Regions from separate parts of the Homo sapiens genome. Here region 1 is linked to region 2. A link means that fine-mapping ties the variant in region 2 to the expression of a gene that starts in the linked region. Tissue or cell type: whole blood. Region 2 holds a variant in brackets; the other region holds the start of a gene. All regions are shown on one strand. Distances are from middle to middle.

Region 1 (5,146 bases), 41 kb after region 2:
ACATAGAAACTTGTCTCAGGGGGCCCCCAAAAAGTGGCTGAAAGCTTCAAAAGACGGTTCTCAAAGCGCAAAACCTTCAAAAAACTGGCAAGGATGGAGCTGACACAGCAGAGAATGAAAAGCTTCCAGGTTTTCACTAATGATAAGAGAGATTTCCCAGTTTTTCAGAGGACTTTGCTCAGAGAAACTATAGGGGTACCGGATGTGGGAAGTGGTGTGGTCCTTTTGGGGTCCAGCGGGCCTGGATCTACATCCCTGCTTGGCTCTTGACTGTGACCTTAGGCGTGGGACCTCACTTTGCTGAGCCCTGGTTTCCTCATCTGTCAAATGGGCTTAAGGCCCTCTGCCTGATATGGGCGTGATAGGAGAGGCCAGAAGAGGGCGCGTGGACGATGATGGCCGGGCCTCGGTGGCAGTATCTATTCTCGTTTTTGCCAGCTCACAGACCTGGTGGGAGGTGGCATGGAGAATTCCAGACTTCCTCCAGTTGCCATGTTGGTGAAAACTGTCTTCATGCCAAAGAGGCAAACTCACTTACACGCTAACAGGCTCAAACAAGAAACTAAGATTTGGCAGCATTTGAAAACAGTTAACAAAAAATAAAAAAAGGAAGGAAAAAAAAAAGACAATTTAGCTCAGCTCTGGAATCAAGGGAAACTTCACTCTATATAAAGATGCCACAGGTCCAGGAAATAGCTTCCCACCGCCTGGCTAAGGGCTGAATAACTGGCTGCCCAGCCAATAACAATACAGACTCACACAGCACACCCTTTCTTGTGGAGAGCGCGGAGTGGGTTCCCGGCTATCTCCTTTCAGAATTTCACAGGCTATTCACGGAAGGCATGCAGATCTACTTTGTAAGAATTAGTTCTTAAAAAAAAAAGATCTGAAGACGACTTCCAGGGAGGCCAAGGAGCTTAATTTAGCCAGCCAACGCCCTTTTCTATTCATTGTTCTATACTTCTTTGTTAGGATTTTTTCCCTCCCTCTTACTCTTTTTCCCTTCCTGGTTAACTTCTCTGCAGCCAGGCTCCGCCACTGCCCACTTCTCACCGCCAGAGACACTATAGCCCCCTTCCCTGCTGTAATGAGGCCCTCCCCAAGGCCTCATGTGGGCCCATCACCCCACATCCCCTTTATCTCCACCTAGAACCTGCGAGGTGGTCCCAGGGCCTCCTGAATCTGCAGACGTGTCCCCTAGGTTGCTGCGGAAGCCACTTTCCACCTGCAGGTCACCGTCAGCCCCAGGCACCCCTGCTGGAGGGAGGGAAGCCCGAATGCAGCTCTATGTTCCAGGACCTGCAACCTCTGAGCCTCAGCCTTCCTATCTGCAAAACGACGCTACTGTCCCATTTTCTCAAGTCCTTGCCAGCTCCAAACAAGATTCCCATGTTCCAGAGGGAGATGCCAGGAGAAAACTTTCGTACATTTTAAAACAGAAGTTACTGGAGAGAGGGGGCAGGGGATGTTTTTAACCCTTTAAAGGCGTAGCCACTCAAATGATCCATTCCCAGAGATCTCCTCCATCGCCCAGGCCGGCTCTTGCCAAAGAACGGAGTCAAATTCGGCGAACCCTAGAGGGGCTACCTGTGGCTGGGGACTGCGGGTCTGCGCGCCTCTGGACAAGGAGGGGCAAGGCGGGCGGCCTGAGAACAGGCACTTCTGTCTCTCCCGCTTTCTGTCTCAGACCCCTCACCGGCTGGAGCCAGACTTTTCCACAGATGAGCAGGACGGGAGTTGGGGGGACACGGAGAAGACAGAAAGGGGTAGAGGAGCCGCAGGGAGGCGAGTAGGGGGGCGAGGCGGGAGGAAGGGATGGAGGGGGAGAACGAGGCAAAAGCGGGGAGGGGAGGGGAGGGAGGGAGGAGGAGTCGGGAGGGACCCGGGCAGCGCCGCCGCAGAGCCGAGGGGAGAGCAGGGGAGGAGGGGACGGGAAGCGCTGGAGGCAGAAGTTTTCCAAGCCGGGGGCCCTCGGTCGCCCCCGACGGGGCGCGGGCTCAAGGGGGCGTGGGGGCCGCGCCGCACTCACATAATGCTTGTTGGGCACCCGCCGCTTCTGCACGTCTAGCACCTTCACCTCCACGATGCTGCGCCGCGGCGGCATGGCCGCTCCTCCGCCCGCAGCGGGCCGAGCGCGGGTGCGGGTGGCGCGGGGTGCAGGGAGCGCTGGGGGCGCGCCGCCGCGGGCAGGGAACCTGGAGCTGAGCGCAATCGCAGCCGGGGCCGAGCACGAGCCGCCGCCGCCACCGCCGCCGCCCTTCGCTCGGCGCGCACTCCAGCCGGGCCCAGCCGCCGCCGCCCGCCCCCGGCCCGCCCCCCGCACCGCCCCCCGCACCGCCCCCCGCACCGCCCCCCGCGCCGCCGGCCCGCCCCCCTTAAAGGGCCCGGCCCCGACCCCCGCCCACCGCGCGCGAACCCCGCCGGCCACGTCCGGCCCCCGCCCGGCCTTTGTCCCGGTGCTGAGCCGCCGCGCCGGGGGAGGGGACTGGACTGACCCCGTCGCCCGTTCACTGATTGACGTATCGATTCATTCCAGCACTCTCGCTCCGGCAGCCGCCATCCACCGCCAGTTTGGAGAGCCGGACACCCGGGTTCGAATCCCGGCTTTGCCGCTTTTCCACTCTGTGCCCTCGGCAAGTTGCTTAACCTCTCTGGGTTGGGTCTCTTCGTCTATAATATGAGCCTAGTAGTACAAGCACCATGTTTGTCTTTTTGTGTCTGGCTTATTTCACTCGGCATAATGTCCTCAAGGCTCATCCATGTTGTAGCACGTGTCAGTAGTACCGCCTGCCTGCCGGTGCTGCGCCCGGGATTAAGTGCATGTGAAGCCATTCCGCAGTGCAGTCCATGGTATGAGTGCTGGCGTTCCTAAAGCCACCCCAAGCCCTGGTGATTCAGGAGGAGCAAGAGACCCGTGACCAGGTTCCCCCAGCCTCAGTCTGGGACATGGGGAGTGAGGGAGAGAAAAACTGCAACAAATGCGCATACGTGCAATGTAATTGCCATGGAAGCAACAAAAGGGGATAAAAGGGTGGTGACTATGTGTGAGGGGCAGCTGGGTGCTTGTTAGCAAGGCCATCGATTTCCAGTTGCGGAGCACTTAACTGCTCGCTGGGCCCCGTGGCCCCTGCTTTTCACAAATGCTGTCTTTGCATCCTCAGGCAGACTCTAGGAGGAAAAGGTGTTTTTACAGAGGACGGCCTCCAGACATTTGGACATTTCCAATGAGGCCTGAGGACCCTCTGACTTGGGAACTGTACTTCAGAAGAATGTGCCTTACAGGAATTACATCAGTGAAGGTCCAGAGTCAGGGAGCCGGTGGATGGAGCCCGTCACTGCCTGGCTCTAGGTGGATCTCACACGTTGAAGCTGCCGTGGCTGGGGCAGCTCCTCGTTTCTTCATCTAGTGCCTCCTAGCACTGGCTGGGCACTGAGTCACTTTCAGGAGATGTTGGCTGAATGAATGGATAAATGAATATATAATGCATGGATGGGAGGTTTAGGCTCCTGGCCAGTGTTTTCACAGCCAGTAAGTGGGGGCTCTTTTCAACAAACCGTACGACTCTTCTCCATGCCACGACAGAGCTACTTCCCACCCCGGTCCAGGATCAGCCTTTGGAAAAGGGTGGGCTTATCCAGGGTAGGACGGCTCTCAGCCTCGGCCAGGCCACGTGGATGATTTGGGCTGATTCACTTTGGATCCGCCCCTCCATTTGCTCCTCTGACTTCCTTGCCAGACTTTACCATCCTGCTCCAGCCCCAGAGGCTGGCCTGTGTGGATTTCACTGACAGCTCTCTGTCCTGGTCTTCCTGTTTGGCTTGGCCAGTGGAAGGGCCTGGCAGGAGATTGAGGGCAAGAGGAGAGAGGGAGGTCTGGGTATTTAATCCCTAAGCCCCTCCTCCCCGATTGTTTTTACCAAAGGTGCCCTTTCTCACATGGTCTCTCTCAGGGTTCCTGAAGCCACTTTTCTGCTCAGGACAGTGACAGTCTTGCTGTTGCAAGCCCTGGGTACTACGCCATCCTCGGTGCTTCCTTAGCCCCGCCCACACCCGTATACATTGACCCTTTACTAAACTGTCTTCATGGACCCAGCTTGAGGGTGGCATCTGTTCGGTGCCAGGACCCTCACTCATGTAATTCCTGTAAGGCACATTCTTCTGAAGTACAGTCCCAAGCCAGAGGGTCCTGAGGCCTCATTGGAAATGTCCAAAGAAGTGAAGGTCTGCTTTTCCGTCCCTGCCACATCGTGCATTGCCTTATTAGGAGCCAAGCCTTCCTAAGAAGGCAGAAGCTAGAGGCCCTCTCTGAATCAGCCAGCTTCCTGGGTTTTTCCGGAGAGGCAGAGAGACCTGCCCCCAGCCACACCATGGGTGGCAGAGGTGGGTCCTGCTGGCTGTGTCCGTCTCCTCTGTCTGGGGAAGACAAAGGTCCCCCCACAACCACCAGTAGCAGAAGATGCTATCCCTGCATCTTTACGTATCTTTCCTTTGTTTTACTTTTTTATTGTAGTAAAAAATACATAACATAAAATTTAACATTTCAACCATGTTTAAAGCATACAGTTGAGTGGCATTAAGTACACTCACATTGTTGTGCAACTGTCACCACCATCCCTCTCCAGAACTTTCTCATCTTCCTAAACTGGAGCTCTGTCCCTATTAAACACTGAGTCCCCCCCCACTGCCCCCCAACCTCCTCCAGGCCTTGGCAACCATTGTTCTACTTTCCATCTCTATGAGTTTGACTATGCTAGGTACTTCATATGAGTGGAAACACACAATGTTTGTCTTTTTGTGTCTGGCTTATTTCACTCGGCATAATGTCCTCAAAGCTCATCCATGTTGTAGCATGTGTCAGAATTTCCTTTTTATGGCTGAATAATATTCCATTATATGTATATAGCACTTTTTCTTTATCCATTCATCTGTCAACAGTCACTTGGGTTGTTTTCATCTTTTGGCTATTCTGAATAATGCTGCTGTGAACATTGGTATAAAAATATCTGTTCAAGTCCCTGGTTTCAATTCTTTTGTGCATATACCAAGAAATGGAATTGCTGGATCATGTGATACTTCTATGTTTAATTTTTTTTTGAGGAGCCCCTAAACTGTCTTCCACAGGGGCTGTGGCATTTCGCATTCCCTC
Region 2 (5,146 bases):
AGTGAACATGTCCTCTCATATACGATTTCATGTGACCTTGACAGTAACTCTGTGACATAAATGTTACATTCCCCTTGTCACAGATGAGGTAACTGAGAAGCAGAGAGGGCAGTGAACTTGCCTGAAGTCACACAGCTAAGTGGTGTGTCCAGCCAGTCCATGCATCTTTGTCTAAATTCCATTCTTTTTGCCTAAGACCACTCTTTGAGGCAGCTTCAGAGTGTCACGTGAACACAAAAGTCAGCCTGAGATGAGGTAAGTTTAATATTCTGTGCACATGTGAACAGCATGCTTTCTTTTCGAAAGCAGAGCCATTAATCAGTCTCAGCTGTGGAGTATGTTAGAGATTTATAGGTTTTTGCCTAACACTATCTACTTTTTCCCTTCTCAATTTTATTTGTTAAGACAATGAAACACCATTAAAGGGAACTTTTTTTTTTTTAAAGAATGCACCAGTAATCTGTCCACCCTAACATGACTATTTCCAATCTCCGGGTTCCTTTGGAGTCCCTGCCTGAATGTACATGTCAGCCAATGAGTCCCTGCCACTGCTGTGTTTTTCAGTCCTCAGAGGGGTCTCTACTGCCTGGTCTTAAGAAGCTGCTCTCTTGCCCTTTGTCCTGACTTGATTTTACCCAGATCAGCATGGCCCAAGGAGCTGAAAGGCCTCCCTTTGTTTTATTTGTTGGAGGTGGCAGATCTGGGTTTAAATACTGCATAGTCTAACCACAGACATGACTGCTGGGGACCCAACAGCCCTGGGGTTCAATCCTGATGCTTCCTCATGCCAGCTGTGTGTCTTTGGCCAGACACTTCATCCCTGAGCCTGTTTGGCCGTCTGCAGGATGAGGGACGCAGCCTGCTCCGCGGCGGGGCTGGGTAAATGAGTGCTATGTGGAAACTCTGGGGAGCACACCAGATGCTCAGCAAGAAATCCCCGCTCCTTACACTCTGCCCATATTGAATATGTTATTTTGAAAGTTATTTGGGGATAACTTTTAGTAGTCTGTAAGGCTGTGTGGTTTTTTTTTTTTAATCGTGTTAAATATACACAAGAGAAGATTTACCATTTCAACCACACTTGGGTGTACAGTTCAGTGGCATTCAGCACATTCACAATGTTGTGTAAACATCACCACCATCCATCTCTGGAACCTCTTCATCATCCAAAACTGAAACTGTGACTCCCCCCTCTCCCTCCCCCTGGGCCCTGGCAACCACTACTCTGCTTTCTGCCTCTATGAATCTGACTGCTGTAGCTACCTCCAATAAGTGGATGACACAGTACTTGCCCTTTTGGGACTGGCATATTTCACTTAGCATAAGGTCCTCAAGCTCCATCCATTTTATAGCATGTGGCAGAATTTCCTTCTTTTTTAAGGCTGAATAATATTTGATTGTGAGGCTGTGTTTTAAGGTTGGCAAAAAACCCCTCAGGACTGCCCGGGTGGCCCCGTGGCTGTAGCAGGGCTGTCTGCTGGCACTTTCTGCCATCATGGAGGTGTTCTACATCTTGCTGTCCAATCCAGTGGCCACTAGCCTCCTGGTAGCTATTGAGCAGGTGAAATGCTGCTCCTGCAACTCAGGAGCTCAATTTAAAAATTTTCTTTAATTGACTTGAATTTACATTTAAATACCCTCATGTGACGAGCAGCTGCCATCCCGGACAGTGCAGGGCTGGACTATCACAATATCCTCCTATTTAAACCACATCCAATTTTATTTCGTTTTCTTCATCACTGTGTCCAATGTCAACGGCCATCTGTGAGTTTGCTAGTTGCAAAGACTAGGACTCAGGATAAGATGCTGGGGGATTAGAGCCCTGCAAGCTTTCCTTGCCGAGCTGGTCTTGGTGTGTCCAGGTTTACGGCCACCAATTGCATCTATGCAGAGAACTGTAACACTAGGCATCCAAAGGCCTTGAAGTAGGTTCTCCAAGGGACCAGGCCCAGGCTGTCTGCAGCAGCAGGAGCAGAGGCATGCTCCTCAAAGCCTAACCCATGTCATCCTTGGTAATGAGAAAACCCACTACCCGCGCTCCCCCCAGATAACAAAAGAAGTGGCGCTCAGGGTGAGGAGGACTGGAAACTGAAGAGGAAGATGAGTCATTTGGGGAGTAGGAAGGGAGAAGGAGTCACATCAAGTTGCCACATCACAGGCTTCCAAGAAGAAAGAGAGAACACTCCATCAGCAGTTTTCAAGACATCAGCTTGCGGTAGAGGGAATGCGAGACACGCTGTCCAAAGAACACGCCATGGAAGCTGGCCACC[A/G]CACGTGGTTTGCGTTAGCAGCAGCCATTGAGGCTGGACTTGGGAGGGGTTTACCCCCTCAATATCACAAAACCCCCAAGTCCCAGCGGAGCCGGAGCAGGAAGTGGAGAAAGGCCTGGGGCCATCATGCGCAGCTGCAGGCTGGCAGAAAGCCACAAGGTCCTGGGGCAGGGCTTTCAGGGCCCTGAACACAACGGTGTCCCTGGGCCTAGTCTACCATCTGTGGTTTGTTGTCTTTGAGGATTCTGGCCCCTCCACGAGCTGGTCTAAATATCAATGTGTCTGGTGTCCTGATGGACGTGCTGCACGGAGGCTGCCACCACCTCCGGTCTGTCCGCTTCTCTCCATACTTACTGCTCCCCCTAAGTCCAGGCCTGTATTTTCTCAGTTCAACCCCCTTACTACTGTTGGCCCTCTCTTCTGCCCCACTACCTCCTCACTGGTACACGGTAAGCACCTGTTAGATATTTGTGCAAAGAACAAATGAGTAAATGAATGAATGAATGAATGAAAAAACAAATGAGAAAAAGTGGTTAACTGGTTTGGTCAGCCACTCTCTGGGAAAGGAAAAATTACATACCAGGTGGCAGCAACAGGGCCTGGACCTGAGTTTAGCTGCAACTGCCCAAGATAATCATGCCTCTTTCTATTTTAGAAATAAAGAATTGCTAACTGTGTGGAAAAAGGCAACTACGGTATTTTCCCAGTGACACACCTTCCATATGGTAATAGCTTTTAGTGGGAAGGGAAAACTATTCCATTTAAGTATGCACAACACGTTGGAGGCATACTCCAATTCCAGAAGATAATGTCTGGGAGAAAAAGTGTGTCTGAGGATGGAGTAAAGGCAGTATTTGGATAAATATGGTTGGTGGAGTCTTGGGCCAGATGTTGGCTGGGATCTTGCTGGGAAGGCTTCCCGGCCAGGCAATGCCTGCCTAGGGAGTGAAAACTCTTCAGTTCTGCCATCCCCTAGACCTGTCCTCAGAAAAGCTGGAAGAAAACCCTCCCTTCCCTTTGGCCTCTGCAGTGGAGCATGGGGGCTTATGGGCAGATAGTCTTAAAAAGTACACTTGGGGCTGTTAAACTCCCAAGAGGGCCGAGGTGGAAGGACCAGGGTCTTAGAAGGAGACAGGTCAAGGCCGGGCGCAGTGGCTCACGCCTGTAATCCCAGCACTTTGGGAGGCTGAGGCGGGTGGATTGCTTGAGGCCAGGAGTTCAATACTGGCCTGACCAACACGGCAAAACCCCATCTCTACTAAAAATACAAAAATTAGCCGGGCATGGTAGCGCGTGCCTGTAATCCCAGCTACTCCGGAGGCTGAGGTGGGGGAATCGTTTGAACCCGGGAAGCGGAGGTGGCCGTGAGCCGAGATCGCGCCACTGCACTCCAGAGCGAGACTCCATCTTAAAAAAAAAAAAAAAAAAAAAAAAAAAGAAGGGGATGGGTCAGTCCTAGCTCAATGGAAACTGGAAACAAGCGGTTTTTGCTGCATGACTTGGGACAGTCTCTGGAGAGACAAAGGCATAGATGGAGATGCAGCCTCCACCTGTGATTTGAGGCGTCCAAGAACTGCTCGAGCCGTAAGCCCCTGAGCCTAGCAGCAACGCTCTGGCACAGCGTGCGGAGCAGGAGAGGAGCCAGAAAAGCTTCTCTGGATCTCTGCAGCATGAACTTCCCCGTAGGGAGTGTTCCTTCTTACAGATGAGGCTGGCATTTCTCCCGAGGGCTCCTTCACGGGCAGAGTGACTCAGCTGGTTCTGTGCCCCCCTGCCAATGTTGGAATTCTGGAAGATGCCCAGCTAAGACTCCTGCTCCATTGCACCTCTGCACCTTTGCACATGAGGTGTCCTCTGCATGCAATGCCCTCCCCCATTCGGTGGAGGGGCCACTCCTTATTCATTGTCAAGACCCTGCTCAGATGTCACCTCCTCCAGCAAGTGAGCCCTGTCTGAGCTCCCTGGCTAGGAGGGAGGTCCCTCTGTGAACACCTGGATTTCTCTCTATCTGAAAGAACATGTGCCTATTCCCACTACACTGGAAGCTTATGGAAAGCAGAGATCCATCTGGGTCCCTTGTGGCAGCTCGAGGTCTAGGTTAGCAAATGTTTAACTGCGCCTTCTGTGAGGGAAGCCCTGGCTCCAGTGATGACCATGACCCTTGGCCTGGGGGACACAATGAACCAGTGGGAACTCAGAAGACAAAGGTTGCACGGTACAGTGTAGAGGGGCTCATGTTTTGGTCAGAACTGCCCTCTGTGGATAGACTCTGCCTGTATCTTAGAGGGAGGAGCCAAATGGGCCTTAAAAAGGGGCAGCCATAGGCAGGACTCTATGTGGGTAAATCTATCTTTCAATAGGCAGATTGAAAGGCAATCCCGGGGCCCAAGGAGGCAGGGAGGTTAGGAGTGCAAGTTTCAGATCCAGCCACACCTGGGCTTGAATCCCAGCCATGCTGCTTTCTGGGCATGTGACTCTGTCTTTCTGAGCTTCAGTTTCCCCATCTGTGAAATGGATACAATACTGACCTCATGCCTGTGAGGACAGAATGAGATGGCATATAAGATGGGCATCTGGCACATTCCAGTTAGTGACTGCCGATATTGTTACTATGTGGCTCAACCCAGCCACATTTCTGCTAGGCACTACCCTCAGCTCTCTGGGCACTCCAGTCATCCCCAGTGCTCTGCCTGGATGCCAATTTCCTTTGCCACACTGATGGACTCCCCAGAGTAGTCCCAAGCCAGGGCAGAAAGGGAGAATCAGAGAGGCTGGGTGACCATCCCAAGGCCGCACAGCTGGTAAGACAGAGGGAAGGACCCGACACCAGGTATTCTTATTTCAAGCCCAGGGCTCTATCCCATTTCCTGCACCCT

The links. PIP is the estimated chance that this variant, and not a neighbour inherited with it, causes the effect.
Region 1: it holds the start of SH3PXD2B, and the variant in region 2 is fine-mapped to the expression of SH3PXD2B in whole blood (TOPMed, PIP 0.99).

What each region holds. Positions count from the first base shown.
Region 1 is chr5:172,452,249-172,457,394 of GRCh38, forward strand. SH3PXD2B (SH3 and PX domains 2B) reads right to left here and starts at 2,277. Exons shown (of 13, transcript NM_001017995.3): 1 at 2,030-2,277. The coding sequence starts at 2,104. RefSeq lists an enhancer at 1,243-1,764.
Region 2 is chr5:172,410,777-172,415,922 of GRCh38, forward strand. The region is part of intron 2 of SH3PXD2B (SH3 and PX domains 2B); the gene reads right to left. Among named protein-coding and RNA genes, the nearest start is that of SH3PXD2B, 41 kb to the right of the region's middle. RefSeq lists an enhancer at 1,925-2,426. The variant A/G (reference allele first, on the strand shown) is at 2,271.